3 linked regions of the Homo sapiens genome follow. The protein of the gene in region 2 interacts with the protein of the main gene of each other region in a biochemical or structural test. Each region holds a gene or a part of one and is shown on either strand. Other genes may lie near its edges.

Evidence for each region.
Region 1: the proteins of POP1 (region 2) and RPP38 form a complex in vitro, tested with the Homo sapiens proteins (one study listed by BioGRID).
Region 3: the proteins of POP1 (region 2) and POP4 form a complex in vitro, tested with the Homo sapiens proteins (one study listed by BioGRID).

What each region holds. Positions count from the first base shown.
Region 1 is NC_000010.11:15,090,596-15,101,800, reverse strand, and holds the start of RPP38 (ribonuclease P protein subunit p38), read right to left. Parts: upstream 4,447-11,205; 5' UTR 4,035-4,446; exon of another isoform or gene 3,668-4,034; intron 1-3,667. UniProt on the Homo sapiens protein: Component of ribonuclease P, a ribonucleoprotein complex that generates mature tRNA molecules by cleaving their 5'-ends. Also a component of the MRP ribonuclease complex, which cleaves pre-rRNA sequences.
Region 2 is NC_000008.11:98,153,214-98,161,963, reverse strand, and holds the end of POP1 (ribonucleases P/MRP protein subunit POP1), read right to left. Parts: intron 5,915-8,750; coding exon 5,552-5,914; intron 4,348-5,551; coding exon 3,693-4,347; 3' UTR 2,129-3,692; downstream 1-2,128. UniProt on the Homo sapiens protein: Component of ribonuclease P, a ribonucleoprotein complex that generates mature tRNA molecules by cleaving their 5'-ends. Also a component of the MRP ribonuclease complex, which cleaves pre-rRNA sequences.
Region 3 is NC_000019.10:29,606,850-29,617,556, reverse strand, and holds the end of POP4 (ribonuclease P protein subunit p29), read right to left. Parts: intron 8,901-10,707; coding exon 8,848-8,900; intron 7,149-8,847; coding exon 6,925-7,148; intron 5,696-6,924; coding exon 5,618-5,695; intron 5,441-5,617; coding exon 5,379-5,440; intron 3,687-5,378; coding exon 3,585-3,686; intron 2,314-3,584; coding exon 2,177-2,313; 3' UTR 320-2,176; downstream 1-319. UniProt on the Homo sapiens protein: Component of ribonuclease P, a ribonucleoprotein complex that generates mature tRNA molecules by cleaving their 5'-ends.

The sequences.
Region 1 (11,205 bases), on a different chromosome or scaffold from region 2:
CTCCTGCCACAGCCTCCGGAGTAGCTGGGATTATAGGTGCCCAACACCACGCCTGGCTAATTTTTGTATTTTTAGTAGAGATGGGGTTCACCATGTTGGCCAGGCGGGTCTCGAACTCCTGACCTCAGGTGATTCACCCACCTCAGCTTCCCAGAGTGCTGGGATTACAGGAACGAGCCACCACTCCCGGCCAGTCCTCCTTTTTAGGGGGACCCCGAGCTGACTTCTCTGGCTGGCAATTCCATGAAGACTAGGGAAATGTAATGAAATTTAAAGATACTAATCCATTGAGGAAAAATGAGTAGAAGGATGCTTAATGGGGAAAATGTTATAAACTATTGGTCCAGAGGGCATATCCTTTTATCCTTCCCAGAGGCAACTACACACTCCCTTCTCTTCCCTCAGTTTTCTTCCCTTCCTTCCTGGGGCTCAGCTAGAATCACAGGGACCCACCTGGCAAAACTAAAGGAAGTTATATCCTTTGCATTTATACTACCACTTACTAGGCTGGCAGCTGATGTTGAAGGCAAGTGTGTCTGTGCAGTGTATCGCTGTATAAAGCACTCTCTCCATGTATTATTTGCTTCTTACAGCATTCCTATAGAATCCCCCAATGTGTGCATTAGGAAACTGACTCACTGCCTAAAGTCACAACTAGTTTTCCAAATCCAAGTTTTCTGTTCTTTCAATCCTTGCTACACCTCAAAAATAACCTGTGGCTTCTTAAAACATGCAGATGCTTGGTCCTCAACCCAGATCTACTGAATTGGAATCTTCAATAATAAGGCCTGGGCATCTGTGCTTATAAAAAGCTGCCCCAGGCCGGGTGCAGTGGCTCACGCCAGTAACCAAAGCACATTGGGAGCCCAAGGCGGGCGGATCATAAGGTCAGGAGTTCGAGACCAGCCTGGCCAATATGGCGAAATCCCGTCTCTACTAAAAAATACAAAAAAATTAGCCAGGCATGGTGGTGCCTGCCTGTAATCCCAGCTACTTGGAGGCTGAGGCAGGAGAATCTCTTGAATCCAGGAGACGGAGGTTGTAGTGAGTCAAGATCGCGCCACTGCATTCTAGCCTGGGCGACAGCAAGACTCCATATCAAAAAAAAAAAAAAAGTTGCCCTCGTGAATCTGATTCAGAGCCGGAATCAGGAACCACTGGTGTAGGACAGGGTGTTTCCACACTGGACAGCCCCGAGAAAGGGCCCCCTGAGCGCTATTGGTCTCTGATATTCTTCCCAGACACTTTCCCACAGAAAAGCCAAATTCAGCTCCTTAGGGTGAGAGATCACACCCTGGTCATCTCGGTACAGCAATCCTGGAGACTTCTGGGGCCTAAGCTGCTTCCTTCACGGTGGCCACACTGTGTCCCCTGACCCCATTATCTCTATGCTCCCCTAGAGCTCAGGAAATCAGGAAGAAAAGTGGCTCATCCAGATGCAATGCAGTGACTGTGAGGGGCTGGCATCAGGTTCAAAGTGGTCAGGAAGAGGGAAATAAGTGACAGGGGGTGAAACAAATAGGATGGGGCAGAGCTCTTGCCAACTGCAAGTCAGATGATGTCTCCACATCCAAACACCACAGAATAAATACTTAAAATCATGCTCCAGAGGGATCACAAAACAGGCTATAAACTTGTCCCACCTGCAGAATCTGCTGGGGCGATAAAGAGAGCCAAGTAGTCTGGATAAGCATAATCTCACGCAATATAATCCAGAAACAAAGTACTGACTGATAAGATTTTATAGCTTTAGAGAAAGAGAGAAAAATAGGCTTTGCTGAGGGCCCTTTAGAGCTGTCTCAAGAGGCCTCTGCTGCCTGTAGATCAAGGGCAAACTCTTTTTACTAGACAGTCTTGCCCTGTCACCTGGCAGTAGTGCAGTCGTTCGATCATGGCTCACTGCAGCCTTGAACTTCTGGGTTCAAGCAATCCTCCCACCTCAGCCTCATGCTGAATAGCTGGGATTATAGGCGCATACCACCAAGCCCAGAAAATTTTTTTAATTTTTAAATTTTCTGTATAGGCTGGGCACGGTGGCTCACACCTGTAATCCCAGCACTTTGGGAGGACAAGCTGGACAGATCACTTGAGGTCAGGAGTTCGAGACCAGCCTGGCAAATATGGTGAAACCCAGTCTCTACTAAAAATACAAAAATTAGCCAGGAGTGCTGGTGCACACCTGTAATCCCAGCTACTTAGGTGGGTGGCTGAGGTAGGGGAATTGCTTGAACCCAGAAGGCGGAGGCTGCAATGAGCCGTAATTGCACCACTGTGCTCCAGCCTGGGCAATGGAGTAAGACTCCGTCTTAAAAAAAAAAAAAAAAGAAATTCTATAGAGACAAGGTCTTGCTTTGTTGCCTGGGCTGGTCTTCAACTCCTAGGCTCAGGCAATCCCGTAGCCTCGGCCTCCCCAAAAGTACTGGGATTGAGGGCATGAGCTACCATGCCCCGCCTAAACTCTAATGTGACATAAAAGGCCCTCCACACTCCAGCTCAATCTCCCACTTAGGCCCTCTTTCTCCTTAGGCCCCACCAAGCACAAGTCCTCAACACCGAACAACATACTATTTAATGAGGCCAGCATTTTCCCACCTGCAAGTCTTTATACACATTAGTCCCTCTGCCTGGAATACCACTCCCACCCTCAGCCGCAGGCCCCTTCCTTTCTTCAACAAATATTTATCGATTATCCACGATGTGCCAGGCCATAAAGATTAAGTATTTTTTCTCACAGACCTCATGAGCTTAGAGTCCACGAGGAAAAAATATTAGCAAGTAATTATACAATAAAGCCTGATGCACATGAAGGTCAGGGAACAGTATGCTTAGGGAACATCCAGCAGAGGCCTAGCTTAGTTGAGGGGGGTGGGAAAAGGCAGTCCTCACAGAGGAACTTTTTTTTTTTTTTTTTTTTTTGAGACGGAGTCTCATTCTGTCGCCAGGCTGAAGTGCAGTGGCACAATCTCGGCTCACTGCATCCTCCGCCTCCAGGGTTCAAGCGATTCTCCTGCCTCAGACTCCCGAGTAGCTGGGACTACAGGCACGGGCCATCACGCCCGGCTAATTCTTGTATTTTTAGTAGAGACGGGGTTTCACCATGTTGGCCAGGATGGTCTCGATCTCCTGACTTTGTGATCCGCCCGCCTCGGCCTCCCAAAGTGCTGGGACTACAGGCGTGAGCCACCGCGCCGGGCCGGACCTCTTAACCTACATCTAAACAATGCCTACCAAAGGAAGTATGGAGTAAAGAAAGGTATCTCAGTATTAAAAGAAATAAGTTGGCTGGCGAGGTGGCTCACGCCTGTAATCCCAGCACTTTGGGAAGCCCAGGCGGGCGGATCACTTGAGGTCAGTAGATCGAGACTAGCCTGACCAACGTGGTGACCCGTCTCTACTAAAAATACGAAAATTAGCCGGGCGTGGTGGCAGGCGCCTGTAGTCCCAGCTACTCGGGAGGCTGAGGCAGGAGAATCGCTTGAACCCGGCAGGCGGAGGTTGCAGTGAGCCGGAATCGCGCCACTGCACTCCAGCCTGGGCGACTGCTATGTCTCAAAAAAAAAAAAAAAAAAAAAAACACGTTCAAATAAGTTCAATGTGGCTGGGGCAGAGATGCTAGAGAAAGCGGTGAGAAACTAGGAAAGGTGGGTAAGGACCAGATAATGAAGACCTTTGCAAGCGTTCCAGTGTGAAGCAACTTTAACATCTAAAGCAGAGGTGTCGTGATTAGAAAGACGTTATAGATCTTTGTGGATCTGGGCAAAGGAAGAGTCCCCGAGCAGCAAAGACGCTCCTGGAGTCGTCCAGGTTAGAAATGACGGTGGCCTGCACTAGAGACGCCGCAGAAAGGACTGGAGAAAAATACATGTTAGTCGGAAAAGAAGGTAGAATCTCCCGACACAGTAGTGACCAGCTGGAAGTAAAGTTGAGAACGGTATTGGTGGTGACTCCCGGTTTCTGGATCCCGCCGGTAGCCGAGGGGCGACGGCCGACCCAAAGCTCACCTCCCCACTGCACGCCGCCCCTGGATCGAGTACCTTGGTGCTTTACTATTTAGCACACGGAAGTGTTGTTCTGTTGTCCGTGTCTCCTTGGAGACCGTGGAGAACAGAAGGGCCGGCGGGGGTTTTCGCTTTGTACTCCTGGTGCCCAGCCGGCGCTGCAATCCAGCAGAGGAGCCGGACTAGAAACGCGGAAGCTCTGGGTGCACGCGCCCGGCCCGGGACTGGGCGGCCCAACCGGGAGGGCGGCGGGTCCTGCGGCCACGCAACAGGCGTTGGGGAAGCAGCAGAGACCCTGCGTGCGCGCGGGCTTCGGCCTCCAGATTCCGCAGAGTCCCGGGCCCGATCCCCCCGGGGCTGGCCTCCTGCCCTACGTGGGCCCCGCGCGCCCACCTGGAACTCACGATGGCGAATCCGTGGTCACCTGAAGGCAACAGCACCGGCGCCCAGTGCGCCTGCGCCGCGCGTGCGCAGAGCCCTCGCCTCCCGGCCTCGCCTCGCAGACGCGACGGGCCGGGGAGGAAGCGCTCGGAGCAGTGCAGGTTTCGTTATCCTGTGTTAGGTCACTCCGGAGAGGGGAAAGCGGCCCACAGCGTCGCGCGACCCGGAAACGACACAACGAGGCCCAATCTTTTAGACTCGAGTTTAGGCCCCGGGGTGGAGTCTCCGGACCGGGTCCCCCCACCCCCGCTACAGGGGCAGTGCGCAGGCGCGAGGTATGTATCGCGAGACCATGCGGTTGCCCGGGTAACCAGACGCTCAGGACTTGGACCGTCCAGTTGTTCGGAGGCCAGCCTATAGCCAATGGTATCCCGAGGGCTCGCTCTCTCCGGGCGTTTGTGCTCCCCTCTCTCTTCTAACCCAGTTTCTACCTTTCAGTGCTTTGGAATCTTAGCCCTCTGTCTCTATTCGCTTTTCTGTATTTGCCTTGCCTCAGGGACGCACAACCCCAGCCCCTGTCCCAGTGAGCCCGTCGCCATGGAATCCCTGCAGACTCCCCAGCACCGCGAAAATCAAGATAAAAGGGAGAAGGAGTATGGGGTAAAACACATGCCTATGGGCAATAATGCAGGGAATCTTGAGCCCGAAAAGAGAAAGGCAGTAAGAGTTGCCTTGAGTTCAGCAACAGCTGCACAGAATATCCCGTCCAGTGTCCACTGTGGCTGCTCCAAGCAATGGAGACTCAGGCTACCATCGGAGTCGCTGCAAAGTCGGGGACAAGTGATGAAGCGGCCGAATAACATTTTAAAGCTCAGGAATCTGGATCTGTTGATCTACCCTTGGCCAGAACTTAGAAGACGGCAGGTTGCTTCTGACCTAATGAGCCTCCTCCTTCTCCCCGCTTTTTCCGGCCTTACTTGGGCCCCCTTCCTTTTCCTCTTTACGTATCTGCCTCCTTTTCTCAATCTCCTCACTGTTGGTTTTGTATCCTATTTTCTGGTATAGTTTCTGTGATTTCTTTCTTTTATTTATTATTATTATTGTTGTTGAGACAGAGTTTTGCCCTTGTTGCCCAGGCTGGAGTGCAATGGCGCGAACCTGGCTCACTCCAGCCAGCGCCTCACAGGTTCAGGTGATTCTCCTGCCTCAGCCTCCGGAGTAGCTGGGGTTACAGGCACGGGCCACCAGCCCAGCTAATTTTTGTATTTTTAGTACAGACGGTGTTTCACCATGTTAGTCAGGCTGGTCTCGAACTCCTGACCTCAGGTGATCCGCCCACCTCGGCCTTCCAAAGTGCTGGGATTACAGGCATGAGCTACTGTGCCCAGCCTCTATGATTTCAATTTTCATGTTTAAGTACCTATGTAGAACCTAACTGTCCATAAGTAAACACAACAAAAAAAAGATTTGGCTTTTGGTCAAAGATCATTGGAGGTTACACAGGGTAAAGTGCAGTATGATTTTTATCACAATTAGAAAGATTAAAAAGAGATGACAGTGAGTTTGTGAGAACAGGTTTGTGTTTCATAAAATGAATTGTGTGAGTTAGCTATGATGAACTGCAAGCAGCTTGCATTTCCAAAGACAAATAGAGACACAGGAATCTAATTAAAATGCTAAAGTAATGGGAAGGAGACATCCATACGTTTTTGTCCCCCTAAGGTTCCAGATTTATAGTTTGAGCATCATCTCGGCTTACATTTTCTCTGTGGAAAACATCAGCCATTACATTACTTGGCTCTGGGTTGAAATCCTAACTTCATCAACTGAAGATCTTATGACCTAGGCAAGTTTATTAACCTCCTCTATGACGTGATAAAAATAGTATCTCTTGTGCGGATTAGAAGACATGTTCCTCTATGCTAAGATGATTATTATGTGCGGAACACATAGTTAAGTGCTTGATAAATTGAACTATGGCAAATCCAGTCTCAACCGTGGCAAAACTAAGTTAATAAAAATGAAACATAACCTTTATTATTTTAGTGCTTGTGTTTTATTTTAAAACTAGCAGTATAATTTCCACGAGGATTTTGCTAAAATTAACAAGTACATTTCGAAAGTAATTTCTGTCCCTCTTGTATCACACAAACATTACAACCAAAAAGTAAAAAACATTCTCCCATGACCCAATCACACCCATTTTTTTCTTTAGTGTTCCCTTCTACTTTGTTTCACATATGTGCATGCTTTTACATTAAACTAATACAGATTAAGTCTTCTGATTTTCTTTACACATAACGCTTTTTCATGTTTCTCAAATTATTACTTTACATATTTGATATCCTATTCTGAAGAAACGGTTTTTTTTTTTTGGAGACAGGGTCTTGCTCTGTTGCCCAGGCTAAAGTGCAGTGGCACCATCTCAGCTCACTGCAACCTCCTCCCAAGCTCAAGTGATCCTCCCACCTCAGCCTCCTGAGTAGCTGGGACTACAGGAGCATGCCACCATGCCTGGCTAATTTTTGTACTTTTTGTAGAGACGGGGTCTTGCCATGTTGCTCAGGCTGGTCTCAAACTCCTGGGCTCAAGTAATGCTCCTACCTTGGCCTCCCAGAGTGCTGGGATTACAGATGTGCACCACCACACCTGCCAGTTTTACTTTTTAATGACAGTTGTTTTATCCTGTAAAATCTGTTTGGTCTTTGTATATTAGAGCTTTCTTTTTATATTAATTCTAGAATTGGACTACTGTTTGATTTGTATGCTTTCCATTATTTGACAATGACTTAAGATTCTGAGTGATGGCCGGCTGTGGTGGCTCACACCTGTAATCCCAGCACTTTGGGAGGCTGAGGCAGGAGGATTGCTTGAGCCCGGGAGTTCAAGACCAGCCTAGGCAACATGACGAAACCCCGTCTCTACAGAAAAAAAAAAAAAAAAAATTAGCTGGGCATGGTGGTGTGTGCCTGTAGTCCCAGCCACTCCTGAGGCTGAGGCAGGAGGATTGCTTGAGCATAGAAGGTGGAGGCTACAGTGAGCTATGATCACACCACTGCACTCTAGCCTGGGCAACAGAGTGAGACCCTGTCTCCAAAACAAATAAATAAAAAGATTCTGAGTAATAAATTAGATCATTAGCCACAATCCTTTGATGAAATAAGTGAAGGTCCCAACAAGAAAATTTGTCAATAGAAGAATGTAAGGGAATTGACCACCAGATTCTTCTTTTCCTCCATGGTATTCTGACCTTAGCTGTGTGTGTGTGTTTGTGTGTGTGTGTGTGTGTGTGTGTGTGTGTGTGTTATGTAACAGTAGTTGTTATGTAAACAATTCATTATTTTAAATCAGTTACTAAGAATAAACTTTAATGATGAGATGCAAAATGAATACTGAAAGCTTTACTAATTGGAACGGTATAGTACTCCAAAGAATATCTGTGTCCATAGAGACAAGTGAAGGTGAGGAGTTTCAAGCAGTTGAGCAATTCGCAGGTCTCACAAAACAGCAAAATCAAGACCAACATGATGTCAGCTCCCTGCATCTCTAATCCCATGGGACAGCATTCCCAATCTCAGAGGTCAGATGACAGGTCTTATGAGTGGTGGGTCACTCTGTCGAGGAACAAACTAAACTTCAGCAAGCAGTTCTACAGATTTACACAGAAGCCTGCGGCTCCATCCTAAAGTGGAGCAGGTTGTAGGGGGTGCGGAGAAAGAAGGGGAAGATGGAAAGCCCTAGTCTCAACTAAACTAGGGACATGGATGAGAAACAGCCTTGTGAGACTCTCCCACAAGATAGGGAAGCCCTGTGGGCAAGGTCATCCCTGAGCTGAATGGGAACCTCCCTGGCATGGCCTTTTGTGTCCCCACTGCCAACGTGTCAGTTGTGGGCCTGAACTGCCATCTGGAAAAACCTGCCAAATAGGATGACATCAGGAAGGTGGTGAAGCAGGCTTCAGAGGGCTCTTCAAGGGCATCCCGGGCTACACCGAGCACCAGGTCATCTCCTCCAACTTCAACAGTGACACCCACTCTTTCACCTTCGATGCTGGAGCTGGCATTGCCCTCGACGACCACTTTGTCAAGCACATTTCCTGATATGACAGTGAGTTTGGCTACAGCAACAGGGTGGCGGAGCCCACATGGCCTCCAAGGAGTAAGACCCCCGGACCACCAGCCCCAGTGAGAGCACGAGAGGACGAGAGAGGCTCTCACTGCTGCGGAGTCCCTGCCCCACTCAGCCCCCGCCCCCACTGAGAATCTCCCCTCCTCACAGTTTCCACGCAGACGCCCTGAAGAGGGAGACACCATGGGAGCCTCACCTTGTCGTGTACCATCAATAAAGTTTCCTGCACTCAATCAAAAAAAAAAAAAAAAAAAAAAGGGAAGCCTTGCCTTGCTCCCAGGGAAATCACAGGCATTCGGCGAGGACTCAGGGTAGACCGCAGTCAGGCCTTGGCTCTGTGGCTATGTGGAGATGTCCAAGGTTGTCAGGGGTCTCAGCAGTGCTGTTTTATGAAAACGGGGAAATTTGAAAGACATTTAATCCTTCCTTTTTATCCCCCTCCTCCCTTTCTTCCCCCCCCCCCCGCCTTTTCCTACAGGTACAATATTCATTGAATTTTAAGTGTTGGGGATAAAGTGGTGAGCCAGAGTTCTAAAGGAGGAGAAACGGTAAACAAAGTAAACGATTTAAGTTGTCAGATGATTCAAAGTGCTACAGAAAAAAAGCAGGGAAGGCCAGGCGCGGTGGCTCATGCCTGTAATCCCAGCACTTTGGGAGGCCAAGGTGGGCAGATCACTTGAGGTCAGGAGTTCAAGACCAGCCTCGCCAACATGGTGAAACCTCGTCTCTACTAAAAATACAAAAATTAGTTGGGCATGGTGGCGCACACCTGTAATTCCAGCTACTCGGGAGGCTGAGGTAGGAGAATCACTTGAACCTGGGAGGCAGAAGTTGCAGTGAGTCCAGATCATGCCACTGCACCCCAGCCTGGGTGATAGAGTGAGACTGTATCTCAGAAAAAAACAAAAGCAACACGAAAAAGCAGGTAAGAGTGGAAGGGGGTGCTAGGATGGGTGATAAAAGGCCTCCTGAGATGACAGATGAGCAAAGACCTAGAGGAGTGGAAGCACTGAGCCAGGCCGACCCTGGGAAGATAATTCTGAGGTAGAGACGGGAGAGCAGCAGTGCGACAGGCCTGTTAGAACAGCCGGGAGGCCAAGTGGAGCGGAAGCCCTTTGAAGGCAGGTAAGAATGAGAACAGAAGAAAGACGGAGAGAGATGGCCAGAGGCTCATAGACGAGAAGACCAGGCTAAAGCTATTTCTTGTCTCAAAGTCTTCCTGGAGGTGTTGCCATGTCGGCTAAGTCTTGAAGGAGGAGTTGGCTGTTAAGAAAGTGGGAAAAGGAGCCAGGTATGGTGGCTCGCGCCTGTAGTCCCAGCACTTTGGGAGGCCAAGGCGGGTGGATCACTTGAGGTCAGGAGTTTGAAACCAGCCTGGCCAACATGGCGAAACCCCATCTCTACTAAAAATACAAAAATTAGCTGGGCATGGTGGCATACGCCTGTAATCCCAGCTACTAGGGAGGCTGAGGCAGGAGAACCACTTGAATCCGGGAGGTGGAGGTTCCAGTGAGCTGAGATGTCACCACTGCACTCCAGCCTGGGTGATAGATTGAGACTCCGTCTCAAAAACAAGAAAGAGAGAGAGAAGAAAGAGAAAGAGAAAAGAAAAAATCAAAGAGAGAAAGAGAGAGGGAGGGAGGGAAAAGAAAAGGAAAAGAAAATAAAAAGAAAAGAAGGAAAAGGGTGTGCCAGACAGTGGAGTGGCAACTATCTACCAACGTGGAGAAAGGGAACTTGAAGTCCTTCAGTTACCTGGGGTAGAGCATCCATGCCTGTGGGAAATAGCGAGAGATGTGGTTGAAGAGGTCAGCAGGACCTGGTCCATCCCGGAGGACCACATGTACTGTTCAGCCAAGGAGAGCTAAATTGTCATTGCAGAGAAGAGAGCAAAACCATGGATGCACCATTCGTGAGGCTTGGGTCCAACCCTACAGCCATTACATCAAAATGGTGGTGGGAATTAGGGATCAGACTGGGGTTTGTATCTTTTTTTCCCCAGGTAATTGAATGCACTGCCAGGGTTAAGAAATGTTCATCGTGACAGTACTAAAGATTCAATGCAATCCCTATCAGAATCCCAAAGGATTTTTTTTATAGAAAAAGAAAAACCTATTCTGAAACTCATGCTATGGTTTTTATTTTATTTTATTTTATTTTATCTTATTTATTTTTGAGACAGAGTCTCACTCTGTTGCCCAGGCTGGAGTGCAGTGGCAAGATCTTGGCGCACTGCAGCCTCCGGCTCCCAGGTTCAAGCAATTCTCCTTGCCTCAGCCTCTCAAGTAGCTGGGATTACAGGTGCCCACCAGCATGCCTAGCTAATTTTTGTATTTTTAGAAGAAGGGTTTTTGCCATGTTGGCCAGGCTGGTCTTGAACTCCTGACCTCAAGTGATCTGCCCACCTCGGCCTCCCAAAGTGCTGGGATTACAGGCGTGAGCCACCGCGCCTGGCCCCTTCTTGCATCTCAAGACAAGACACACATGGCTAGGCAATGAGATGGGGAATGGCAACCCAGGAGAAGAAAATACTTTCAAAAGAGGTCTTAAAAGAACATTCTGGATTTAGAGAAAAAAGCAGAGAACAATGTAGCGTCCATCCCTCTCCTCTTCTGGATTCTTACAGTGACGATAATTCCAGAATGTCTCAGCTGAAGATATGGACTGATACCTGAACTCAGTGCAGTATTTCCTGCTG
Region 2 (8,750 bases):
TTGGGAGGCCGAGGTGGACAGATCACTTGAGGTCAGGAGTTCGAGACCGGCCTGACCAACGTAGTGAAACCCCGTCTCTACTAAAAAATACAAAAGTTAGCCGGGTATGGTGGCGTGTACCTGTAATCCCAGCTACTCGGGAGGCTGAGGCAGAAGAATCGCATGAACCCGGGAGGCAGAGGTTGCAGTGAGCCAAGATCGTGACACTGCACTCCAGACTGGGCAGACAGAGTAAGACTGTAGGAGAGAAGAGGAGAGAAGAAGAGAGGAGGGGAGAGGAGGGGAGAGGAGGGGAGAGGAGGGGAGAGGAGGGGAGAGGAGGGGAGAGGAGGGGAAAGGAGGGGAGAGGAGGGGAGGGGAGGGGAGGAGAGGGGAAGGGGAGGAAAGGAAAGGAGAGGGGAAGGGGAGGGGAAGGGAAGGGTGCCAAGACTGGAAGCTGCTGTTGCCAAAGAAAAGGCAGTGCCTGTATTCCTCTGTGTCCTCAGGAGGCCTATAATAACCAGAACCGCTGTGAAACTGGGGTTGATGCTTGAGTGGCCCACAGTTGCTACAGGCTATGTATTCTCTGCTAAACAGCTCAATCCTGGACCTATCTCTGTGCTCCCCAGGCCTCAGATCGGCTGGCTACGAGTAGGCCAGTTAAGACTATGAGGGAGTCCATATAGCTTGTCAACCGCCCCCCTCACCTCCCACTGGTTGGGAAGAAAGAACTCACGCAAGGCATGTGGCCGCCAAGACGGCAATGCTACACTTAGTACATGATGGGTGGTTACATACTAACTTCCCATTTAAAAAAAAAAAAAAAAAAAAGGAGTATTATCCTTAAAGCTCTTGCCAGTCAAGCACCAACAAAAAAACTGGTAACATGCACTCTGCTGCACTTGCATGGTATAGCTCTTTATATAAGCAACGGCTTATGTTATTAAAAGAAAACTACCCACATACATCTTAACGTCTAGGATACATAACAGAAGGTAACTAGTTATATTGCATGGTGAAAATCCAGGTGATTTAAATTTTGTTATTGTTGCTCATCTTCATTTTCTAATTGTTTTATGATGAATATGGATGACTGATATGAACAATATTACTAGAGCATAAACACCAAAAGGAATCCATTGTTTCTTACAGAACTCAAGTGCATAGCTGGTCTGTAAGTGTTCAGCTCACAACTCTGCCTTTTCTTTTCTTTTTTTTTTTTTGGAATGGAGTTTTGCTCTTGTTACCCAGGCTGGAGTGCAATGGTGCGATCTCGGCTCATTGCAACCTCCGCCTCCCGGGTTCAAGCAATTCTCCTGCCTCAGCCTCTCAAGCAGCTGGGATGGCAGGCATGCGCCACCATGCCTGGCTAATTTTGTATTTTTGGTAGAGACAGGGTTTCACCATGTTGGTCAGGATGCTTCAAGAACCCTAAAAGCATTGCTCCCTCAACAAGAGGACAAGGGCCACATTGCACTTATTTGGTAGCTATGTAGCTCTAGTACAGCATGGCAGGCACTTGGAAGGATCAAGATCAACACGCTAATCAATTCAACTGCCAGAAAGTAAGCCATTCCCCTATCAGTCTTTTTCATAAGGAACATGGATTCTTTACTGCCTCTGCAGAGTCTGTTAGTTTTTCAACGTATCTTCTGTGAAACTAGTGTTCTCTGGACAATAGGTATGCAAAAACCAAAAAAGGTACGTGTGTGGGAGTCTGAAAGACAGATTTCTTTCCTAAAGAGCTTTGCAGAGCTTTGACTCTGCAAGTATTCATTGTGAATCATAATAGGAGGATACCATATATAGCTTTTCCCATATTTATTTAGCCATAAAATACTTTTCTCCAGGAACAGCTGCAGGGACTAGTACTCCCAGGAATACATTTTGGGAAATGCTAATCTATCTTTCTGGTGCGCAGCTCTTTGACCTACCACCCACCAGGCAGAGTGGCTGCAAACGTGCCCTGTCCCCTATAATGAGGGCGGGGCAGCAGGCCCTAGGCAGGGCTGTACAGAATGAGGTTAGGTGACCACGCAGCACACTCAGACTTCTGTCATCGAGTGAGCTCAGCCACAAATGAGGTGACTGAGAGCCCAGAAAACAAATAAGGAATGGTCCAATAAATATAAATATTCACAACTGAACATCAGGTGACATTTTCATTTATTCTGTTTACAGATGCCACTTAGTTACACTGTTTTTTTTTTTTCAGTCTCATCTGGGTTGGATCCAAAGACATTCAGAGGCATGGTAAGAGGCAAAGCATCAGACATCTCATTGGTGGCAGGTACTTCCTGACTACTGTACCACCTGCTGTATCCTTCCCCACCTCATCACCCCCAAAGCCATTTAGTGCCAAATGCTACAGTAAAAACCCAATGCATTTACATAAAATAATGCCTAACTGCATATTTACATTTTTTAGAAAAAAAATCCCATTAAGCTCTTCTAGAAAGTTATGGCAGGAAAGGTAAGGACCAAGGCTATGAGCAAGCCATATGTGGAAACTTAAAGTAGATGAGCACTGAGTTTCTCCATAGTTGGAAAAAAGCCACACTGAGCCCACTCTTCCTGTGAGGCAAGATGAGACCTTCCTTTTATACCCTGTTGAGAATCTCAGGTGGACAACGTGACTGCATGAGTGTTGAAAGGCAGCTTGCCGGCTTAGTTATCACCTTGCAGAGGTAGCTATGCACTACACAGCCACACTGCCCAAAGCGCGCTACTAAGAACACTGGTCCTACAAAGGGCTCCTTGTAAGAGAACTTTAGGAATCACAAGTATTTAGAAAATACTATACACTATCATTTCCTTCCTAGAGATCCGCAATGCACATTATCACATGGAAGTTTCCAGAAGTTCTTTCATAAAGAAATGCTTAACTTTATTTAACCTAGAGTTTCCATATCAACCTGACCTTGGAATCTCTTACTTTTTTAGGTGACACATATCATAGAACATATTCTGAGAAATGCTCCTCTATGGCTTTGAGAAAATCTTTGCAGAAACAAAATAATAATAATTTTTTACTTAAAAAAATTAAGTAACTAGTAGGATCAAGTGTTGGTCAACAACAAAGAGATCAAAGAGTCAGGAAGTCCACGTCATAGACCCCCACTTTCTAATTCCAGCCTAGCACTGACGCCATAAACTGTGCCTGCCTGAAAACAGGCAGAAATCAGTTGTCCATGATTTCTCTCTTTAAGGCTTGAGTTGTTCGGCATGGAAATCACAGTACAGAATTGAATGAGGTCCATCAGGAGCCCATATTTCATGTACAGAGGCCAAGCGTCTTCTCTTGTCTTCTGCTATAACAGTGAAATCATTAAACATCTATTGTTGCTTATCACATGACTATGAGGTTTTTCAAATAGACCTGACAAGCCCTTTGTTTCTAACAAAAAAAGGGGATGATAACTCGTAGAGCTTCTCATTATTTTCAGCCACAACTACACAGACCAAGAGATCATAATACAAAGCTTTTGGCCAAATAATTTAAAAGTATTACAGCAAGGACAGGGAAAGATGAAAATCAATGACATTACTGGAATGATGTAAACATTTCATCATCTGCATAATACATAATTTTTTATTCTTGTTTCCAGGGAGTTTCACATGATATTTTAAAGCAGAAGCAGATTCTCCACATGTAGAACTTGGCAGACAATAATAACGTATTATCTATGCCCTGCTGGGATACAAGCACGCATTCACACCTCAATAGCAATCCTCGCAAATCGATACTGCAGAGAGGCGGGAGGCCTCAGTAGCACTAAGCCCCTCTGCGCTGCAGGCTGGCTGGACAGCATATCCAGCAAGCCTGTCAAGCTAACAAACCCCAGGGCTTCTCCACAGCCAACAGCCATGGAAAAATCTCCCTGAGTCACAAAGCCTAGGAGAGTTCTGGAGCAGTGCAACGTCACACGCGGCAGAGGGCCTGACCACAGCCCTAGAGTCAGAGCTTCCTGCCCAGCCACGGGCTCTTCCCCCGCCGGGCCATCAGAAGAGGCACGTCCTGGCTTCTGCCTCTTCTCCCTTTTCTTCTTCTCTTTCTGTTTCAGGATCTTGCTCCTGAATGGGTCACTGTGTTTGGATTCCTGGGGCCCACAGTAATGCCAGTCCTCATGGAGCTGGAGGAAGTCCTCCTTGGCTGGGACACAGATCATGGTGTGAGGCTCGGGGCTGCCCTTGCTGAGCAGGGACAGGCTGACCCAAACCAGGGCCCTGGGGAAGTGGCCCAAGATGGACAGGCAAGCCTCTCTGGTCAATCCTTGCTGGCCTCTGCCGGGAGCTCGCCGGCCTCCCCGACTATCCTCAGAACTGGGCCCACACCAGGCTGACAGTTGCTTCAGTAATTTTCTACTCCTACATGAAGTTGGAGACATACGTTTGAGGATATTTTGTTCCAGAAAAAAATATGCAATCAGAAGATTAGACACTGCTAGAATTAATTTGATTCTTTTATACTATATAAGAATCAAAACTACAATTTTTTAAAAATTAGAAATACACTGTAGTACATTTTAGTACTTATATTTTTCTTTTTATGTGTTTGCCATTCTGAAACTCAGGGACTAAAGATTTAAGAAGTTGAAGGCAGGGAAAACAAGACAGTGAGATAGAATCTAGGATTGTAATCACAGTGAGGGTGAAAATAAAGAGCCACTAAGATTTCAATGAGTAAAGGAACTGTAAGGGACTGTTACATGTAAAGTAAGAAAGAATGATAGGAAATTATGAGGCTACTATACGGAAAAGTAAGCACAAGGCTAGAGGGATAAGCACTTTTTAAAAATCAAAGCACAGGCCGGGCGCAGTGGCTCACACCTGTAATCCTAGCACTTTGGGAGGCTGAGGTGGGCGGGTCACCTGAGGTCAGGAGTTCGAGACCAGCCTGGCCAACATGGTGAAAATTAGCCAGGCGTGGTGGCATGTACCTGTAGTCCCAGCTACTTGGGAGGCTGAGGCAGGAGAATCGCTTGAACCCAGGAGGCCGAGGTTGCAGTGAGCCAAGATCACACCTCTGCACTCCCGCCTGGGTGACAGAGCAAGACTCCATCTCAAAAAAAAAAAAAAAAAAAATCAGAGCAAAGCACAGAATGCAGGGTCACTGATGAGCAGAACCTGGCCCACACCAATACTGAGAGGAGAACATAGTGTATCCGGTAGCCTCTCTGGCTAGGACTATATTACATCTAATGGGTTGCTGCTCTAACACAAATCCATATAATTCAAAAGGAACTAGAAGAAATCTAATTTGGTAATTTAAAGCAAAGAATCCTTGCTCAAACTGCATAAAATATGTCAGAAAAAAAACTGCCTTGGCTTGGATCTATTGATGACAATATTGTAAATCATTTCATCAATTAGCATCATGCCTTACATCAAATATTATTAAGCTGTTTCCCTGAGCCCTCTATGAAATATAAAAGACTGGCTTTCCCTTCCAGAAAGCCTATAAATTCACTTGGATTTTGCATAAACAAACAGTGATAACGCTTACATCCTGTAGCCTCTTCAATATTAAAATAAATAATCCAAAATGTACCCAGAAGTCACCGACACTTACCTGAGAACGCAGAGGTGACTCCCTGTGGCAGCAACATGGTTTTCACTGGCCTCCTGGTCTGTGATCCTCTCAGGCCCTGCCGATTCTTGACACCCTGCATCCATTACCTCCTCTGCCTCCCTGGGGTGCTCTATGGATGTGCCCACTTCATCAGATGGCTGATGAGTTTTTTTAGGCATGGGAGCACAAGGCACCTCAGATCTTCTTAGGTCACTCTCCTTACCATTTGGAGATGAAGCTACAGAAGGTTCTTCGTAAGCCTGGACTCTTGACTCCCAGTCTTGAGTTAACTGCTCCCAGGGACAGCAGAAAGGTGCCAGAGTGCCAAGCTTAACGTAGTTGGGCCGTTTTGCAGGAGGGCGTCTAAAGAAAAACATACAGGAGAACCAATGTTGAACAATTTAGGATTGGAAAACTAAAATAATTATAACCATTATAATGCATCTCTATTTTAAAACACACACACACACACACACACACACACACACACACACACACACACAAAAGCTTTCCAAGAAACATATGATAAAGAATAATAGGCTGGGCTCAGTGGCTCATGCCTGTAATCCCAGCACTTTAGGAGGCCAAGGCAGGCGATCACCTGAGGTCAGGAGTTCGAGACCAGCCTGGCCAACATGGTGAAAGCTCTACTAAAAATACAAAAATTAGCCGGGCATGGTGGAGGGTGCCTATAATCCCAACTACTGGGAGGCTGAGGCAGACGAATCACTTAAACCCAGGAGGCAGAGGTTGCAGTGAGCTGAGATCACACCATTGCACTCCAGCCTGGGCAACAGAGTGAGACTCCGTCTCAGAAAATAATAATAATAGGCCAGGCATGGTGGCTCATGCTTGTAATCCCAGCACTTTGGGAGGCCCAGGCGGATGGATCACGTCACGTCAGGAGTTCGAGACCAGCCTGGCCAACATGGTGAAACCCTGTCTCTACTAAAAATACAAAAAAATTAGCTGGGTGTGGTGGCACATGCCTGTAATCCCAGATACTAGGGAGGCTGAGGCAGAAGAATCGCTTGAACCCAGGAGGCAGAGGTTGCAGTGAGCCAAGATCATGCCACTGCACTCTATCCTGACAAAAGCGAAACTCCATCTCCAAAAAATAAAAAATAAAATAATAATAATAACCAATTCTACTGGCCAAGCTTTTTTGTTTTCTTTGGTCTTCAATAAACAATGTAGCCCCATGTGGCCACTGAACCACACCAGGGGATCCATTCCTGAAAGCTACAAGGAACTGGTGCCCCTAGAGTTGTGCCACGATTTTCCTGTACACTTACGAGGTTCTAAGCTCAAGGCTACATGAAGTTTCTGTCTTACTCTTGACCTCTAGTGACCCAGCTATCCTCCACAAAGGTAATAAATATCATTATCAGTTTCTTACATAGCCTTCCAGAGACATCTTATGTACACACAAGCAGATATTACATATTTCTTTCTTTTTATTTATTTTTATACAAATAGCAGCATACTAGGTACAGTACTTTTTGCTTAACTTCACTTTTTTCATTTAACAAAATATCTTGATTACTTTATACCAGTACTGAAAGCTCCCTCATTCTTTCTTTTTAATAGGCTGTGTATCTTGTATCTTACTCTACTGAATGAATATGCCCTAATTGATTTAGACAGTCCTCTATTAAAGGACATTTTGATTGTCTTTAAGCTTTTGTTCCTCCAAACAAGGCTGCAATTAATGATCTTGACGGTCATGCTGCCTTCCCCTGCACCACTATGACTCTTGTCACTCCCAGTGGCTTCAGCATCTGCCTAAATCATCCTTCCAATAACCCACCAGTCACCTTCCCACCCTCACTTCGCATGTCTTACTTCACCCCACCTCAAGCACCCACTCCCTGCTCATACCTTAGGTGTGGTCACTGCCAACACCTGCTCCAGCTTCAAACTGCGATGTCAGTATCCTGCTCTCAGAGCCATGCCTCCTGTTTTCCACCCACTTACCCTCCCACAACAATGCCCCAACCACCCATTTACACTAGCACCTCCCTGCGGCTCGCAGCAGCTGCCTCGCTCTTCATCAGCCTAGATGGCTCACACCACCGTCCCTCCCCTACAAACACCCCCACTCCCTCCACTGGAAAGCTGACCTGGGCGCAGCCAACTCTCCAATGACCCCATGCCAGCCCGAGTGGCAGAGCACAGCGGAGGAAGAACTCATGATGGTTCTTAACGGTCTTCCTTTATAAACACAAATCTCAAGTAGGTGCCCTCTACATCTTACAGATCCCATGTTTCTCCTCTCAATTCCGTCTTCCACTCTCCCAGAAACTGCTTACAATTCCTCTCTCCTCAAATCTCCAACAGCCTCTCTCCCCTTCTTACTGCTGGCTGATAGCTGTGCCTCTTTTTTCATGAAGACAGTCACAATCAGGAGTGTGCTACTTAATCCCCCCACTGCAGAATCTAACCTAGCTAAATAAATCCATGTTCAGATGTCAGTGGCAGGCTAACAGCCTTATATTAATTTTTCTGAGGAAGGAGAACTAGCCAACTTAAGAATTACAGAAAGAAAGTGGTTTGGAAAATAGGATTAAGAGCCAGGGCCGGGCACGGTGACTCACACCTCTAATCCCAGCACTTTGGGAGGCCGAGACAGGCAGATCACAAGGTCAAAAGATCAAGACCATCCTGGCCAACATGGTGAAACCTGATTTCTACTAAAAATACAAAAATTAGCTGGGCATGGTGGTGGGCACCTGTAATCCTAGCTACTCGGAAGGCTGAGGCAAAAGAATCGCTTGAACCTGGGAGGTGGAGGTTGCAATGAGCCGAGATCACGCCACTGCACTCCAGCCTGGCAACAGAGCAAGACTCTGTCTCAAAAAAAAAAAAAAAAAAAAAAAGAGTCAGAACTGTTTGTAAATCTAGTTGGAAGATAGCCAAAGAAATAAAAGCAGATTAAACTGTATCAGTGGCAGTCTCACAGTCTTATATTCAGAAGAACTGAACTCAATCCCAATAGATGCTGCCTCCTCCACGTGTGCCCTGAATCCCCCCCTTCTTCCTTGTCCAAGGACTTCGCTCTTACATTTTAGCTTCCCTCCCCTCTCCTGGGTACCCCCAACCAGCCTAGAAACTTGTGCCTCCATCAAGAACATAAGCTACGTGGCCAGGTATAGTGGCTCATTCCTGTAATCCCAGCATTTTGGGAGGCTGGGATGGG
Region 3 (10,707 bases), on a different chromosome or scaffold from region 2:
CCCTGGCCCCTGCCACGGCCCCTGGGCCTCAGATCATGCTTTCTGCAGCTGTTCCTCATCAGGAACCATGTCCCGCCCAGCTGGGCCCTCCCCTTTCCCTCCTCTACCTGGGAGATATGACCCCTGGGTGGGCCATGAGGGCAACAGTGTATCCTAGAAACAGGCAGGCACAGCGGCAGCTTAGTGGCCGGTGAGCACCCTCACCATGTCTCCTTGGGGGAGAGGGAGAGGTATCTACAAATTAAACCGCCACTCACACAGAAACTTGAGTCTGAGCTAAATGAAAAACAGATTTCACATGGCAAGTGGTACCTACAACTTTTCTGGAAAGCAACTGTGTATTTACACAACAGTGGACGCCTTTTACATTGCAGAGGGGCGGGTAAGAGCGGGATGGCTAGGAAGCTACAGCACCTATTTGGTTATGAACACAGCATTTTCAGATGGCTGGGGGAATAGATGCCACTTCCCACTCAAGACAGGGATTTGCTCAGCGGGAAAGCAGGTAATAAAGGCAGCACATCCTGCACTTTGAACTGCATCCGTCTCATCCTGCAGCCACCCTGTAGCTCAAAGCACAGTTCTGGAGCCTATTAGGTCCAAATCTCAATCTACCCTTGAGTCAGCGAGGCCTTAGGCAAGAGGTCCCTCGAAGTCTGTCTTCCTGTGGCAGATGAGGACGGCCACACCACAAGGCAGTCGCTGGGCCGGGGCCCGTGTCCGAGGTGGCAGTGTGCTTGGGCTCCATGTGCCTAGCCCGTGCGTGTGTTCATCACTGGCAGCGGTGACTGCGTGCTGCTTGGGGGAGAGCACTTGAGCTGCCTCAGAACACCCTGGTGAGCGGAGGACACTTGCATGGATGGAAGCAGGACCGAGGCACCGTGTTGGTCCCTGTGAGACTCTGGGTGCACTGAGCTTTGGGGAGGGGTGGTGGCACAGACCTGGGCCTTTCTACTCTCCTGGCACACAGCAGTCAGCGCTCCCACTTCCCTTCTCCACTACGGTGTTTCTCTCTGGTGTGGTTTGGGTGGAAGTTACCAGAAACGCAAAGCCCTGGCACTGCTACTTCTCCTGGGGGAGAACAGATTTGTGGCCTGCCTTTCGCCAGGAGGGCTCCTGGCCTTGCCTTGCTGATCGGCAGAGACTTGCTCCTCAAAGGGAAGGGGTAGTTGGTCCTTCTGAGCCATGTTTCCAACCCATCTGGTAGGCTGGTCCCCTGCCCCGCTCTCACTGCAGCCCTGGGCCCGCTTTTCCTCTGGCCCTGCATGGAAGGGCCTGACCCACTGGCTTTACAGACACATGGTCACAGAGGGCCAGGGTCAGACTGAAAAGCCAAGTCTTTCAGCAGCAAAAATGGCGAAGATATCAAAGGGCGTCAATGCTGCTGGCTTGGCTTTTGCAGCAGGTCTCACCTCGGGAGGTGATGCCGGGCGACCTCCTTTCAGTCCTCCATGGCTCAGCCTGGCAGCTCAGGAGTGGGCATGCTGCGGCAGGTCCCATCTCACTACGCTGGGGCAACCATGCATGGGCACAGCTGCATGCAGTACTCTGCTCCTGGGGTCCACCCCAGCTATGATTCCTGAAGTGAATAAACCCTAAGTCACTTAGCAACTCACCCTTCAATCCTCTTCAACCTTCCTGAAATAGCAAAGTAAACCTTAGGTGGGTCAGAGTTCCACCCAAAGGCGAGCCTCTGTAGACACCTGCCATCCAATGGACCTTTGGGGACCCCCCTTCCCTTTCAACCTGGCTGGACTGCAGCAATACCTCCTTTATTTGATCCCTGTTTATGTCCACATATGTACTGTATTATCACAGATGCAACTGATTTATCATAGAGCACTCAGAAAACATGGAAAAGTATTTTTAAAAATCGAATAATCCTATTCAAGTCAACCAGTGTTAACCCCGGTGTGCTTCCTGCCAGTCTGTTCCTCCCCATGGGAGTCACACAAAATGAAAATCTCCTAGAAAGAGAAATTCCTCTGTCCTCTGACTTCTTCACTTAGTACGCTGCGACCTTCCCATGTTGTTCAACATCCTCAACTCGGAGCGTCACTGGCTGGAGGTGGTCTATAAATGGAATTGGCTTAACTATCTCTTCACTGAAAGGTGGACATTTAGGGAGTGTCCAGTTTTCAGCTGTCATAAACAACTGCCTTAGACGGCAAAGAATTCACAGGTCAATCGTTCCCTTCGCTTTGAACTTCTTCGCAGACCGTTCACTTGACCGAAGCTGGAATTTGCTCCCGTAAATGTAGGAAATAAAGCCATCGGTTTCCACAGTGAACACGCAGTTTAGCTTGGGGATAACTGAAAAAAAAAAAAAAAAAGGCAGGAGAAAAAAAGATGAGGAAAAATATTTATTAATATTTTACTTTTAGGTAGAATATTATTCAGAACACATTGAATGAAAAAAATAAGCTAATAGGAAACGGGAAACCCACAAGGGGAGGGGCATTAGGGTTGCCTGTGGTTATTCTGCCACAGGTCAATCTAGTCACATGCTAAATGTAGCTTGGCACCTAATCTTCAGGGTCAAAGGCTATACACCAAATTCCCAGAACCAGAAAGTCCCAGAACACCTGCCAGAAACTGGTTTTCCCACATTAACTTTCAGATGGGCTCCTGGCCTTATGCTCTGTGGAGAAACTATTACACCACTTTCCGAGGTTTACAATGTGAGGTAGAAGGATATGTAGGAAAATAAGGGAAGCAACAAGAAAAACCAAGCTCAAAAATTAAAGGAAGAAGGCTGGGCGCGGTGGCTCACACCTATAATCCCAGCACTTTAGGAGGCTGAGGCAGGTGAATTACTTGAGTTCAGGAGTTTGAGACCAGCCTGTCCAACATGGTGAAACCCTGCCTCTACTAAAAATACAAAAATTAGCCGGGCGTGGTGGCGCGTGCCTGTAATCCCAGCTACTTGGGAGGCTGAGGCAGAAGAATCCCTTGAATCCGGGAGTGGAGGCTGCAGTGAGTCGAGATTGTGCCACTGCACTCCAGCCTGGGTGGAAGAGTGAGACTGTCTCCAAAAAAAAAAAAAAGAAAAATTAAAGGAACAAAACCTTCTAACTATGGTTTGATATCTCTGGATTTGTGGGTAAGGCGGGGTGTAGAAATCCTGGCTGACCCAAAGTATCTGCTAGAGCAATGCTGGCCACGGATGGAACCCAAGTGTTATCGCCAAGGACACAGCTCAGAACTCCAGGGACAGGCGCCACTCCTGTTTCTACCCTGCTGCCTGTTTGGCTACATTCCTCTGGGAGCAGCAGCCTTTGGGGCAGGTGGAGGCCCTCTCCTGGGGCCTAAACAGACCCAGGTCCCCTGAGGCACAGCCGAGCAGGTCTTCCTTCCCCTTGGCCATTTCTGGCCGGGGTTGCAGGCTGCACTGACACACACCTCTTGGGGGAGCCACGGGTGCAGGGGATGGTCTCTGCAGGCTTTAATGCAGGTTCAGCAAGTATCTGCAATCTGCGCTGACTTGAGGGGTCAAATCAAACTCTTGGAGCCTTGAGGAAAAGGCTAACGCAGTAGCTGGGAGCCACAGCCCGCAAGCAATGCCCTCAGAAACACCTACATACCTTTCAGGCGGTCTTCTTTGGTGATAATTTTGAAAATGTGCTTTGTTTCCTGTAGAAGGATTCCTGTAATACCCACATAAGAGGGGCATTTGGATTTTGTCACTGCAAAGAAAAAGGACAGTTCCAGGCTCAGGCCTCTGTGGTGCTGGGGGAACCACAGAGAAGCAGGCCTCAGGGGTTGGGGGTGCTGATCCCACCCTCTGAGCTAGCAGATGAAAGAACAGAGCACCCAGGGGGTGGGGGCTCAACAGCTGGGCCCTGATGTAACCAACAAGAATCCAGGCTTCCCCTGGGGCTTTGCAGCCTCTGGACTGTTCCTATGAGGTGTCCTTCGGAGGGTCTGTGGCCACAGGGGTCTTGGGCAGGATTCTGGAATTAAAGGTCACATATGTGCCCAGCACCATCAGGGCCCACGGGCTGGCTGCTCTGATGCAGCCAGGTCTCCCTTGCAGGATCTGCACAAACACCACCATGCACTGCCCAGGATGCTGGCTGGAACGTGAGTGTGGCTGCAGAGCTGCCCAGCAGCCAGCACTGCGAGATGAGCCACCATCACAAGCAGCAGCCCCTCCCTCGTCCTGACCCGAGCCTCAGTGTAGCGGACAGAGTCACCAAGCAGCTGTGGAATGCCTGCACCATCCTCAGGAGATGCCAGGGACACAGCACGGAAAGAGGCGGTCCTGGATCCTACTCTCACGGAGCCCGGGTTCTAGCAAGGCAGGGTGATGCACGGTGAACCACACCATTCTACTTTCTGACAGCAACGAGTGCTATGAAGAGTAGGGACAGGGCAATGTGTGGAGGGTCATGGTTTGCAATGGTAGACCCTGAGGGGAGTGGCATTGGAGCAGGGCTGAACAATGAGAAGCTGGACTGTGCACACACAGGAGAACTCCCGGGTAGAGGTAAGGAGCAGAGGCGAAGCCCTGAGGCAGGGCAGGAGGAAGGCAGTGTGGGAGGCCTGCTGCCCCAGGGAGCGGGGAGGCCTTAGACCACAGCAAGGAGGCAGGTTTACTCCCATACGATGGGACGCTGCCAGAAGACTTGAAGCAGGGAAGGAACGTGCTCTGATTTCTACGTAACCGGCACTCTGGCTGCCTGGTGCGGTGAGGAGCTGTGTCTGAGGTAATCTGGGGAATGACAGTGGCTGAATTTAAGTAGTAGGATGTTCCGAAGGATTCGAGGAGATTAGGAAAGAAGAAACATAGACACTGTTTAGGTTTTTGGTCTGAACAACCAGTGTAAATAACTGAGTAATTAACTGAGATGGAAAAGACCAGGAGGGGTTGCTGTGAGGAGAATCGGTGGCAGCTTTGGCTATGTAAAGTCTGAGATGCCCCCTGAACATCCAGGTGGCTATGTCAAGTGGGCAGCTGGATGCCTGAGCCTGGAGTTCAGGGGACAGGCCTACGCTGGAGATGTCACCTTGGGGGCTGTCAGGTGTAGCTGACATTTGAAACCACAGCATTGGATGAAAGGGATTCTGTGTTCAAGATCCCAGGCCGTGGGTGAGTGCTCGCAGCCACTGTGCCCTTTAGGGTACCAACAGGGGTCCCTGTGTGGAGAAGGTACACAGAGACCACTTAGGGTGTGTCCAGCAAATGGCCGGACTGGCTAAGACAGCCAGCGAGAAGCATCTCCCACCCTTAGCGTGGGGATGATGGTGACTGGGGGCCATCTCAGGGAATCCACACGGTAAAGAGTGTGTCCAACAGAACACACGCCCTGGGTCTCCACAGAGTGACAGAGTGAACCTCTGGATGGCCATGTGCTACACGCTCTTAGGTAAATTACCTGAAATAATAGCCCCGTGAAGATCTGCCTTTAAGAGCTTGGCCTGAATCATCTGTGGCTGCCTGCAGGGTAAACAGAAGCCCTTGGTTTACATCATGATAAAAAGTTCCAAAAGAAGCAACTAGGTCTTTAACCGTCTGCAGCCAGGCAATACCAACGCTGGTTCCTGAAGCCGCATTTACAATGATCAGAGGCTTGAGATCCACCCCAAAGAGCAAAGCTTCAGGAATGCAACTTACGTGTCTGGCTTGAGCCCACTGCACAGGTCCCTGATGTACTGTTTCCAGAGTTCATGGAGAGGGAGGAAAAGGCTGTATCTGCAGCAAAGTCAGAAACAGGGAAAAAGTTAGACAACATGAGCTTGGGATGACAATGTCCAAATAGCACAGAGCTTGACTTGATGCCAACAACTGCAACCTGGGATCATTAGGAACTATGTGCAAATCCGACGATGAGCAATTGAGCTGATAACCGAGACCAAGAACCTACACCTCTCTAACCTCAGTTTCCTCATTGGTAGGACCACACCAGCCCAGGGCGGTGTCCACCTGGACTTCTTTTCATGAGAGAGAAATAAACGTGAGTCTTGTTGAAGCTACTGTTATTTTGAGGTTTTCTGTTACGTGAAATTGAACCTAGTAAGCCCCCAGTAAAGCAGGGGTTGCTGGTTGTCACGCAGGTCCTCATGTGAGGCAGCAGGCTGGTCTGGAAGGTGGGCAAGCAAGTGGTGGGGAGAAGAAGCGGGGAGCAGGGGCAAGGACCCCAACAGCGTTCTTCTGGGCCATTATCTCCAGTCTTGATATCCTGTGGGGAATCCGTTACCACAAAGCCTTAGGTTAGAGAAATGAGGACCTTAAGCTCAAACCCAACCTGGGCTCCACCCGGGAGGCAAACCCTGGGAGGCAGCAGCCCCTTCTCCACCTGAGGCCCAGCTGATCTCCTGAGTGGGGCCGGGAACAGCATGGCATACTTTAAGCGTCTTCTGGAGCGTGGGAGGCTATTTGGCCGTTGATCTCCAAGCAAAAGCCTACAGACAGCCCCAAGACACCCACACTCAGACCCGTCACCAAGGAGGGATGGCGGGTCGGCTGGAGGAAGACATCCTCCCACAGGACAGGACAGTGATGCATTCCTTTTGGAAACTTCTGAAACGTGTGGGCAACATCTTGCTTTGGCAATGAAACCCGAGTGGGTGACTGTCTGGCTCTATCAAAAGCTACAAAGTAATACACACTAAAAACATATCAGTTCCTCTTTTCTGTCTAACAAAGCCGAAGGACAAACAGCCTGTTGCCATGGGCAACAGATGTACTTGCACGGGTCTTACTCCTGAAGGTGAGGAGAGAGGCCAGACAATGAGTCCTGTCTCACCCGCCTCGCTGAACACAGCCCAGATTGGTAAAGGAAGGCTGCCCTCTTGTGGCAGACGACAGAGAGGCCCCCTTAGCTTAGGTGGAGCCAGGCTGCCTCCCCAGCCACTCAGCCAAGTTCACACACCAAGAAGGGTAAGCACCGCGGGCAGAAAGACGTGGGGAGCTCGGGTTACCTCTGCTGCTCTGGTTTAATGTCAAAGAGCCGCAGCTCCCTCCTTTGCCTGGCAGAGAGGCCTTTGGCTTTCTTCTTCTTCTCCTTGCGCTTGTGGCGGGTGAAGTACTCCAGGACCACCGCCTTGCGCTGCAGCTGGTCCTCGCGGGCCTGCGGGCTCATGCGGGGCGTGCTGCGCTTCAGGAAGGCCCTCACGAAGGCCTCGGCCCGCTGTGCTCCTGAAGGCTGCAGGCGGACAAGGGGGTGCGGCGCTCACTGCTCCGGTCTGGGCAGCCCAGGATCCCAGGCATCCCGCCCGCCATTCCCGGCAGCTACTGCAAGAGCAAATGGGGCCCATCCCTTTACCTACTGAGGCTCTCAACCTGCTCATCCGCCATGCATCTGCTACCCACAGCTGCCGAGATGTAAGTCACACTCACACACCAATTCATGACCGTTTGTCACACACAACAGCGTGTCAAACGCTCACTTCCTGCTCTGGCCCTGCTTTTCTGAGGTTATTCTGAAAGGACCAAAACCTTTCTATCTTGAAGAAGAATTCTCTCATCCTTGGCAGAAGAGAAAGCTTGAGAAATGTATAACAAATATATTCAACCAGGCATGACCAGATGAAAGTGAGCTCAGAGTAGCACTAAGCTATGGAGGAAGTGATCCTAACACTACAGAAAACAGCAAAACTAGGGCTCCAGGGTCGGCCAAGCCTCAGGGCGCAGGGACCCTGACACTGTGCCCTTAGGACAATACTCCTTAACCGGGTTTCCAGCTCTGTGGGCATGGTGTGGCCACTCTCCAAAAGGTCCGCTCCCGCCCCGCAGACCATCACTTGGAGGAAGGTACCGTCGAGAGCATCTCAGGCCCCAGGCTCGCTCTCTCTGAAGGGTGTCACTGAGAGCAGGGCGTCAACTTACCATGAATGAGCACAGGCTCTTAGAGAGGACTTCTGGGAAAAATGACTGTCGTAATTGTGTGCAATTCTCAAACAAACAAACAAACAAACAAACAAACAAAGAAACCCTCCAAGCTCACTACCTCTCAGGTTGGAGTTCCAATAACGGATTCCTCATTTGGTGGCAATGCCACTGCCCTCATGCCTGCCACAGACCTGGGCAGTTCTCTCTCCTGAGGGCCTGTCTCCTGGCTGGGCTGTTTCCTGAGCTCTTTTTGCACTAGCCAGGTGCTAAATGCTAAGACTGAGGCTGACAGACTGATGCTGATCTGTCAATAGTAACGCAGCCTTCCTTCTGTGGGAGAGCAATGGGGATGGGAAGATAGGGTACATATAGCCTTCGAGGGAGCTCACAGTATGATGGTGGGAACTCTGCTTCAGCTTTGCACCTGTAGATGCTAACTAAAAATTAATTCACTCTCGTCATTGTGACTATAATAGGACAATGATCTGATTCTCTTAAATACCTGAGTGGCTCATCTTTCATGGAGAAGCAAAATAAAGGTATACTGGTCTTTCAAAATCTTGCTTTCAAGGTAATGCTCTCATTATGAGCCACAAGAGGAACTTTTGCAAAACTGACAAAGCAGGCCGAGGCATTCAGATATAATCTGTAAATTTCACTTATGATATGTGATTGCACACCTTCTGCAGAAGTGCAGAGGGCACAGTGACAAGGTTGAATGATGCTGCCCACCACGTGGGCACAGCCTGGTGTCCCCAACACAGTGGGAAATGATAAAAGGTTAAGGAAAGCCTCATTTTACCAAACTTGACTTTGGCACAACAGAAAAGGAGGCTGGCACGTGGGAACAGGTAATGAGAACTACAGACTTTGATCCAGCCTTAGATGTCTGCCAGAAAAATGAGGAGTATGATGTGGGAAAGGACATCTCAATCAGTGCTGGGGGCTCAGAAGCTACTGAGCCATCTTTGCCATCACCTCTGTTGCTCCTGGACTCCCTGCCAAGAACTGACCTGGACATCGGAGTCATTCGCCTCTTTCTGAGACAATGCATGGTAGATCACACCTGGGGGATTAAAAAAAAGAAATGATCAATTCTTGTTGGGTATGGCTGTAAGACCCAAGACTTTTCTAACTATGAAAATAACTACGCCACTAGGCGCAGTGGCTCATACCTGTAGTCCTAGCACTTTGGGAGGCCAAGGCGGGCGGATCCTGACCCAAGGTCAGGAGTTCAAGACCGGCCTGGCCAACATGGTGAAACCCCGTCTCTACTAAAAATACAAAAATTAGCCGGGGATGGTGGCTTGCACTTGTATTCCCAGCTACATGGGAGATTGAGGCAGGAGAATCGCTGGAACCTGGGAGGCAGAGGCTGCAATGCGCCAAGATCGTGCCATTGCACTCCAGCCTGGGTGACAGAGTGAGACTCTGTCTCAAAAAAAAAAAAAAAAAAAAAAGAAAAGAAAAGAAAAGAAAATAACTACACTTCTACACTTATAGCAGAACAACTGCTTATTCAGAGATAGGAGAAGATGAGGTTGGTATTAAGAGCAAAGCTTTCTTGGATGCCTCTTATCCCACCCTCTGGCCACATCTATGCTAGAAGTTCCAAGCACATGGTTTAAAAAGAATGCTTCTCAAAATTTAACGTGTGTAAAAATCTCTGGGATCTTATTAAAATGCAGATTATTGGTCTCCTACCCTAGATCCTGAGTGTTTAACATATTCCCAGATACTACTGCAGGTCAGTGAATCACATTTTGAGTTGCATTGGTTTAAAATACCCCAAGTTAGAAGCTTGAGCACTTGCTAACAAGGTAACTCATTAAAAGTTATATGATATAGCTGTCTAGGATGTAGATGGTTAGAAATAGGTTTTGTTAACTGTAAGATGTTTAAAAAGATTCTTCACATTTTAATATGAAATTATAATGTGTCACATAATCGATGGTGTCCTGAACTGATAAAATACAAGTTTTTCCTTTAAACTCAAAATATACATTGGTCAATAAAGTTTCAACCTCTAAAATAAATTCCACACTTCTGTTTCTTAATTTTTTGAAAGAAGAAAACCATGGCACTGGGGACAGAGTACAGGTGTGAATGGAATAAGAATGGGACTACTAAGGCCTGGTTTATGAGCTAAATAGCTAGAAAATGTAATTTACACTATACTCTGTAAATTTAATTCCAGCTTTCTTGTACTTCCCTGAGAATGTTTGATGCAAGGTGGTTACAAGTTTTTTTTTTTTGTTGTTTGTTTGTTTGTTTTGATACTGGGTTTTGCTCTGTTGCCCTGGCTGGAGTGCAGTGGCACAATCATAGCTCACTGCAACTTCGACCTCCTGGTTTCAAGTGATCCTCCCACCTCAGTCTCCTGAGTAGCTGAGACTACAGGTGTGTGCCACCACACCTGGCTAATTCTTTTTTTTTTTTTCCAGTTTTTGTAGAGACAGGGTCTCGCTATGTTGTTGCCCAAGTTGGTCTTCAACTCTTGGCCTCAAGTGATCCCCCTGCCTCAGCCTCCCAAAGTGCTGGGACCACAGGCGTGTCCCACCACACCCAGCCAGGTATGTTTGTTTGATCAAGCAAACCAATGTGGTTGCAAGTTTTATATATAGCATCTAGTTCTCCCTCAAATGGAAGATGGGGATTATAAACTGTAGAGAGCAACTTGCGGGGCCTGATAACTTTGCTTCATCTGTTACAGGTGCTTAGTAACAGACTTGGAAGTCTTTCTGCAACAATACACATCTAACAATTACTGAACATCCATTACTTGCCAGAAACCTCATTACAAGGTACACATATTTTTTCTCATTACACTTATGTGCATGAGCAAACTGAAGCTCAGACATGCCGAGACAATC